2 separate regions of the Homo sapiens genome follow, and region 1 is linked to region 2. The links come from fine-mapping of genetic effects on gene expression. A gene starts in region 2. The other region holds a variant in brackets. All regions are shown on one strand. Distances are from middle to middle. Region 1 overlaps SIGLEC6 (sialic acid binding Ig like lectin 6). Region 2 holds the start of SIGLEC12 (sialic acid binding Ig like lectin 12).

What was found. PIP is the estimated chance that this variant, and not a neighbour inherited with it, causes the effect. A credible set is the group of variants that fine-mapping cannot tell apart.
Region 1: its variant is the best candidate, but not a certain one, in a credible set for the expression of SIGLEC12 in kidney cortex (GTEx, PIP 0.60).

The regions. Positions count from the first base shown.
Region 1 is chr19:51,523,449-51,527,969 of GRCh38, forward strand. It overlaps SIGLEC6 (sialic acid binding Ig like lectin 6), which reads right to left. Exons shown (of 8, transcript NM_001245.7): 7 at 4,299-4,380. Among named protein-coding and RNA genes, the nearest start is that of SIGLEC6, 6.0 kb to the right of the region's middle. The variant A/C (reference allele first, on the strand shown) is at 2,279.
Region 2 is chr19:51,500,258-51,504,257 of GRCh38, forward strand. It overlaps SIGLEC12 (sialic acid binding Ig like lectin 12), which reads right to left and starts at 1,543. Exons shown (of 8, transcript NM_053003.4): 1 at 1,050-1,543; 2 at 1-43. The coding sequence starts at 1,476.

The sequences.
Region 1 (4,521 bases), 23 kb after region 2:
TATATCCAACAATATCTGCAAATACCAAGAAAGATAAAAACAAAGAAAACCACACCTAGGCATGTCATAATCCTATTGCTGAAAACCAACAAGGAAAAGAAATGTGCCCTAGGGAAGCCAGATGATTGGACAACCCTGCTAGAGGATAAAAGTAGTAACTCTCCTCTCAGCAGTCTGATGGAACTGGGTAAACCAAATTTGATGTTCCAGGTCTGATAAGGAGAGGCCCAGTAAACACCTCAAACCTTCCGTTAGGACTCAAGAAGGGTTACAGATTAAAAGTAAGGGTCCGCTGGGCACAGTGGCTCACGCCCGTAATCCCAGCACTTTGGGCGGCTGAGGCAGGTGGATCACGAGGTCAGGAGATGGAGACCATCCTGGCTAACACGGTGAAAGCCCGTCTGTACTAAAAGTACAAAAAAAAATTAGCTGGGCGCGGTGGCGGGCACCTGTAATCCCAGCCACTCGGGAGGCTGAGGCAGGAGAATGGCGTGAACCCAGGAAGCGGAGCTTGCCGTGAGCTGAGATCGTGCCACTGCACTCCAGCCTGGGTGACAGAGTGAGACTCCATCTCAAAAAAAAAAAGTAGTAATATTTTAAAACTATCAAAAAGGCAAAAAAGGGAGATAAATATAAAAGGACAAATATAAATATAAAGCAGAGCAATCTGGTAGAATTAAACTGAGCCAAATCAATAATCACATTAAATATAAATGGTCTAAACACTCCAATTAAAAGGAAGATATTGGCAGACTTGATAAAATAGGTAGAATAAATGTGATATCTGTAAGACAGACACAATACATATGAAGGCACACATGTGTTAAAAGTAAGAGGAGGGAAAATGCATAACAAACAAGCACTAATATTAAGAACACTAGAGTGGTAATATTAAATCAGACAGTGTATTTTAGGAAAAGAAATATTACCAGAAATAAAGACATTTCATAATGATAAACAAGTCAATTCATTACAAGATATAAAAATCCTAAGTGCATATGCAACCAATCACAGAGCATGATTTAACAAAATAAATTGTAAAAATAAGCAGACAGAGAATCACTAAGGATATAGAAGGATTGAACACTAGTGTAAAATAACTTGACCTGATTGACATTTATAAAATACTACATCCAGTATCTTCAGAAAACACATTCTTTGCAATTGCACATGTAACATTCACCATGGTAGACTGATTTTTCATGTACTTATACTACCAGTTACTGAGATAAGAGTTTTTAAAAAATCGACTATGGAGTGTGCGCCACTCTAATGGAGAGGAGATAGAGTGGCAAATAAACATTAGCTCGCCAACTAGACCATCCAGAAGGACACGTTGACATTCATCAAGGAAGCAACATGACCCGGAGAGCAGAGAAGAATGAGACAAGGCAGCTCCCCAGGATTGGCATGGAGCCAAGGGAGGCTCCCCACGATGGGGAAACAGTGAGCAAGTGACAGCCCCCAAGGACCCACACTTCTGCCATGGACCTTTGCAGTCCTGGGCATGAGAGATCCCCTGAAGCCTCCAGACTGACATGGAGAGCTGTGCGGAGTCTGGGCAGGGCCACTGCTCAGGCCCATGTGGAGCCCCAAGGGCCTTGGACCTATGAGCAGCTGGGCACCAGGTGTCATAGCTTCACCAACAAGAGAGGCCAGGTTCTCTCACATGCTCTCAGGGTAGGGACCACATTTATGGTGCTGAGGAGCTGACAGATTGCATACCTCACCTCTGCTACAGCTCGCCAGAGAAAGCCCACTGGCCTGGGACCCCAGCATAGCCACCTCACCCCTGCCTGAGCACTTGGGCCAGTAGCAGCTCTCGACTTCTCTGGGACAGGGCTCCCAGAGGTAACAGACAAGTCTGCCATTTTTTCTGCCGCCACAGCTCCCACTCCTACTCCCCCGAGGCTGGAGAAGGAGAAAAGAGCATAAGGACTATCACTGGCCTCCAACACACCGGAACTGCTTTATGGAAAAGCAGCCAGACCGTATCAGTGTGGGTCCCTGCCCCTGTTATTCCTGACTGAGAAGGACATCCTGACCCGGGCCCCCAGCACAGCTGCCCTGCCCCCACCTGAGTTGGTGGCAGTTCTGTGTTTCTCTGAGGAGGATATCCCAGGGTCAACCCACAGGCTCTTTGCCATTGCCACTGCAGTGGTACTGCCCTTGATGTCTTCAGGCTGGGAAAAGAATAAAGACCTTGATCACTTTGCTGGCACCTCCAACACACTACAAGCACCATACAGAAAGGAGCCCAGTCTCGCTTCCCTGTGGG[A/C]CCCCTACTCCCTGCTCTTCACCAGGCAGGGCCCCTGGCTGGGGCCTGCAGCACAGCGGCCCCACCCCTAGATGAACGTTCCCATTGGCAGTGGCTCTGTGGCTTTCTGGGGTGGAGCTCTCAGAGCAGCTGGCAGCCCCTCTGCCATTGCTGCTGCAGCCATGCTGCCCTTGCTGCCCTCAGGCTAGGGAAGGAACAAAGAGCCTGATTTATTTGGTGGAACCTCCAGCATGCCACAGCTGCACTACAGAGAGGAGCCCAGTCTCTCTTCCCTGTGAGCCTCCAACCGTTACTCTTCACCAGGTAAGTCCCCCTGCTTGGGCCCACAGCACAGCTGCCTCAACCCAGGGTAATTATTCCAATTGGCAGCAGCTCTGCATTCCTCTAGGATGAAGCCCCAAGAGACAAGGAAAAAGCCCTCTACCACTGGCACTTCCAAGGTCCCTGCCCCTGCTGCTCCAAGCTGGGGAGGAAACAAAATGCCTGGGCTCACCACGGGGCTGTAGTGTGCAGCCTGAGTGCCAAGTCAAGATCTGTAGCCAGCACTTGAGTGAGAGAGGAGCCCACACTCTCAGAGCACTAGGAGGGAGCATGGCTGCAAATGTGAGGAACTACAGAGGATTCATGTGGCTGAACAAGAGCCTACCTGCCAGCCATTATGCTTAAGCACCACCTATTGGATCACATCCAAACTTCAACACCAAAAATACTTTGCTAATATACCCCACTGTGAAACTAAGGACAAGAATTTAGCAACAAATAAAGATCGTGCACAAAGCGTTGGCCTTCTGAAAACGTCCAGAAACAAAGCCAACTGACTATACTCAAATGACAGCACAAGTAAGGGAACATGAGCCCACATAAATGAGAAAGAACCAGTGCAAGGACTCTGGCAAATCTAAAAGCCAGAGTGTCTTCTTACCTCATAATGACCACACTAGTTCCCCAGCAAAAGTTCTTAACCAGAATGAAATGGATAAAATAACAGACGAAAAATTCAGAATCTGGATGACAATCAAGATTATTGAGATTCAGGAGAAAGTAGAAACCCATTCCAGGGAATCAAAGGAATCCAGTAAAACAATTGAAGAGATGAAAGATGAAATAGCCACCTTAAGAAAGAACCAAACTGAGCTGATAGAGCTGAATAACTCACTATAAAAATTTCATAACACAATCAGAAGTATTAACAGCAGAATAAACCAAGCTGAGGAAAGAATATCAGAGCCCAAAGACTGGTTCTTCAAATTAACTCAGGCAGACAAAAGAACAAAGAATTTTAGAAATGAACAAAACCTCCAAAAACTGTGGGATTATGTAAAGAGACCAAATCTACAACTCATTGGCATCCCTGAAAGAGAAGGAGAGAGAGCAAGCAACTTGAACAACGTATTGGAGGATATTGTCCACAAAAATGTCCCCAACCTCTCTAGAGAGGTCAGCATGCAGATTCAGGAAATTCAGAGAACCTTGGTAAGATAATATATAAGACAACCATTCCCAAGACACGCAGTCATCAGGTTCTCCAAGGTCAATGCCAAAGAAAAAATATTACAGGCAGCTAGAGATGCCTGTAATATTGTAATAGTGATGAGCAGTAATGACTTTGGGTTGATTTGGGCTGTCTACTCTAGGGCTTGTGTCTACCACATTCCTTGTACTTAATGCACCTGACACAGACTAAGTTTTGTTCATTTCTTTTTCTCAATAATCAATGCCATAAGAAAAGACTAATATTCCAGGAAATATGATAATCTGACATATGAGGAGCATAAATACCCCCAGCAAATTAACTGGAGTACGTATTTCATCAGAACTATTAGATTCAGTTCCAAATGTTACTATTTTAAATTATTGAAATCAATACTTTTTAAATTATTACTGAGTCAAAAATTTAAAATGTCACATGTGGAACCGCAGGGAATGTCAGGTGTTAATGAAGAAATGCCTCAGGGTCCTTACTTAGGGCAGCATTCAAAAGGGATAATGCTGAATGGAAATTAAGGTCTCTGTCACTCACCCTGGAGCCTGAGACCATGACGGGGTTCACATCATCCGTGTTTTGCACTGGCTGGGCTGCTTTCTTCCTTCTAGTCTTCACTCTGAGGGAACAGCCCTAAGCCTTTCAGCCTGGTTATTTGGAGCCTCTTTCCCCAAAAGAAAACCATCTCCCCACTCCCTATGGAGAGTACAGAAGTAATTAAGAGGTCCAGGTGCTCACATGAGCCCAAGAGTTGGACCAC
Region 2 (4,000 bases):
TCTGGCACCTCCAGCCTGTATCTTGACAGTAGGTCCTGGGACGCTGTGGAGAAACGAGGGTCAGCCCAGCCCCCACTGTCCCTCTCTTCATTTGCCCATAGCAGGGGCAGCAGCATCTCTGAGGCAGAGGCTTCCTGGGCTCCCTGTGTGAGCAGAGAAGGGGGAGGGAGAGGAGGGGCAGGGCTGTGGGACCCACAGGGGGCTGGAGAGGAGCTGGAGACCTCAGCCCTGCATGGAAGAGAAACTGCAAACCCACATGCTATAGGAACTCATTCCCTCTGCACAGAGTGAAGGAAACCCTAAAGCTCAGAGACCCTAGAGACCCACCCAGGGAGGAGAAGAGACCGTGTCCCGCCTCCTACCTCCGGGCTTCCCTGAAGCACCAGGGCCTGCACCAGACACGTAGGTCCTGCCCTCCCGGCCTCTGGACCATCGTGGAGGTCCCTCCTGTCTTTTGAGCATCTAAATGTGGATCTCCGAGGACCTCGGGGCATGAGAGATGGAGGGGCCGTGTGCTGAGTCTCCCTGTCCAGGCTCAGGTGCCTCTGCTGCCCTTGGTTTGCGCCAGGAAGTGCTTCCTCCCTGGCCTGGCCTGAGAGAGTCACGGGGTTGTGTAGACCTAAGGCTCTCAACTGGGGAGGACTTAACCCCCCAGGACGTTTGACAATGTGTGGAGATAATTGTCTCGCTGCATGGGTGGGGTGGGTGCTTCTGGCATCTGGTGGGGAGAGGCCTGGGATGGTGCTAAACCCCGGCCATGCCTAGGACAGGCCCCAAAACAAGGAGTCATAAGGCCCCACATGCCACAGTGCCAGCGTCAGAGGCAGGATGAGGATGTCAGGCCTGTGGGTCAGGGCTGGTGAGGGGAGGGGCTTGCAGGATCAGGAGGGGCATCCAAGGTGCGGTCCTGGGGAAGCTCAGGCTCTGGTCCAGCTCCTCCCCTGAGTCCATCACCCCCGGCCCCCTCCCAGGACATGTGTCCCGTCTCAGCCGTGCCCTAAAGCCCTCATCACATTTGCCTTTGGCCTCTCTTGGAGCCCGTGCCTTACCTGTCACATTCACAGAGAGCTGGTCATATTTATAATTCCATTTCATATTTCCTCTCTCTACACAAAAGACGTATGTCCCTGCATCACTCTCTCTGGTGTCTCTGATGCTCAGGGTACAATCCTTGTTCTGTGGGTCCCCAAGGAGGTGGAATCGGTCCCGAGTCTCCTCCTGCACTGCTCGAGCTGGGTTGTTTGTGGCCACTGGAATGTTCCGGCTTACATGGTCCCCTGCCCGGAACCAGTAGCCATGAACTGGATCGGAGGCAGTCCAGCCATTTTGGGGGTAGGAGAAGGAGCAAAGCACAGAGACACACAGGCCCTCCTGCACCGTCACGGACTTCTGCATTGTCAGCAGGTAATCCTTCTGTTCCTTAGCCCCCACTCTCCCACAGAGCAGGGGTGGCAGCAGTAGCAGCAGCAGTAGCATGTGTCGGGTTGGAGGTGCCAGGGTTGCTGAGGTAAGTCTGTTCCTCAGGGTTCTTCTCTCAGGAACTGAGAACTCAAGATTTCGAGGAAGCCGCACAGGAAGTTGGGGGTGGGTTCTGAACGGTGACCTCACAGGAGGAACTTCACACACAGACACTGTCAGGGCCGGGTCACCCCTGGAAGATCCACCGTCCACTACCCCGTCCACTCCTGGGGACCCTGAGGCCAGAGAGGATGAAAGACTCACCCAGATTCCAACCCCATGCAGGGCCCACCCCGCCCACTGCCTCCCTCTCAGTGCCCTTCCCCTTGGGTGATATTTTCCATAAGGTGAAAATGAGTCCCATGTGGCCAGACCTATGAAGTACAGGCTGTGGATGTCTCTCTGTAGGTCAGAGGTGACACTAGGATATAAGAGATGGGGGTGCAGGTGGGATGAGCAGGCAACCTCTCCTTCCTCCCTCAGCGGCCGTGAGGTGGAGTTCAACACAGCAGAGCTAGACACTGTCCCCAAAGAGTCACTGTGTAGTGGGGAGACACTGAGGCTCCTGATATCTGAGCTCTCCATGGCAGGAGCTTCAGTGGGGGTACCAGGCAGGGTGTGGTCGCTCTCTCCTATGTTGGGGAATCAGTCTCGGGAGGACTGAGCAGAGAGACACGGGGTCGTGGAGGTGAGGATTCCGTGTGTTGATACACACCAAAGACACAGAGAAGAGCCCAGTTCACAGGAGGCCTGAGAAGCTAAGGCTGTGACTGTTGTACAGTGAGGTCTGGAAGGGAGGAATGTTGGATGGGAAGGGACAGATTTCTAAAGGGGCAGGCGTTTCTCTCTCGGCCATGGCTCTCTGGGTTCAGGATGGGATCCTTCACCACTGCTCTCTCACAAGTCCTCCTTACTCCAGAGCATGAGGGGTCTGCTGGCCCTTTGTTCCTGCAGGCTCTGCTCCCAGGGTTTCAGGTGAACAGGAGACGTGGAGCGAGGACACCAGCCCTGGCGTGTCCACGCTCAATGATGGACAGGATTTCATGGGAGAAGAAATGCACCTGAATTCAGCAGAAGAGTTTTTGAAACTGTATGCTATGTACTGGGAGGAAGGTGGGGAAAATCCTGCAAGATTCGCCCTCCTTAGACCCATGTCAGCTTTTCTTGAAACAATGATTTTTGGGGAAATGTAATACAAGTAAATAAAAGTGCCACCTAAAAAAATGACTCAGTGATTTTCACCAAATTATCACTGTTCAAGAAATAGAACATCACAAGATAATTGCCAAATTTCTCCCATGAGATGAAGAAAGAAATTGCATTCATTTATTCAGCCCTGTGTTTCCCCTTCCTATAGGCCACATGCAGTTCCTCCTGAAGATGCCCCAGCCTCACTTTAATGATAATGGTCTCCTTGCTTTTCTATGTAGTTTTATCATCTGAGTGCACTGCCTTCAATACTATGGCTTTGCATAGGTTTTTCTAAAGACTATTTTTACATAAAAACCACAATCTGTTTTATTTTACTCAGCTCCATGGATCTTCCCATCCCCATGTTGTCCCCAATTGCCCATAACCTGGAGTAGAGTCAGTTGGCTGTGATAATTGAAAAGGAAATGTGCAGGATTGGGGCATGCATAGCTGCTCCTCTCCCTGACACCACTAATTCCTGCATTTGCAGCTTGTATCTCATCCTGCAGACCAATCTGCTCCTGGGCCCCCATCCTTGCCGTGTCACTTTCTTCCCGTAAGGACAGTTGCAGCATCTCAATGGGAAGAAGGGCTCGACCACGGCCCATCTCTTTCCCACAGTCCCCAGTTGGCAAAGAAAAGCAGAAAAATGGGAAGGAGAGACATGAGGAAGCCACAGAGAATCTGCAAAGGAAGAACGTTTGAACCACATATGACTCAGAGGAGCTGATGGGCCCTCTAGACCCACTTCCATAATTTGGAGAGGAAGATATTAAGGACCAGAGTGACAAGTGCTACAGCTACATGTCTCTCCTCAAAATTCATTTGTTGACCTTTGAACCCCCATGTGATAGTATTAGAAGGCATGGTGTTTAGATAGGTGGTTTGGATTAGCCTAATAGGATTAGAGCCTGATATGGTTTGGATCTGTGTCCCCACCAAATCTCATGCCGAATTATAGGCCTCAATATTGAAGGTGGGTTGTAGTGGGAGGTGGTTGGATCACGGGGGTGGATTTCTCATGAATGGCTTAGCACCATCTTCTTGGAGCTGTTCTTGTGAGAGTGGGTGAGTTCTAACAAGATCTGCTTGTTGTCTGTGTGCAGCATCTCCCCATTTGCTCTATCCTGCTACTCTGGCCATGTGACATGCTGGCTTCCCCTTTGTTTTTTGCCATGATTGTAAGTTTCCTGAGGAACTCCCCAGAAGCCAAGCAGATGTCAACATCCTGCTTCCTGTACAGCCTGCAGAACCACGAGCCGATTATTCCTCTTGTCTTTATAAGTTACCCAGTCACAGGTATTTCTTTATATCAATGGAAGAATGAACTAATACAGAAAATTGGTACAGA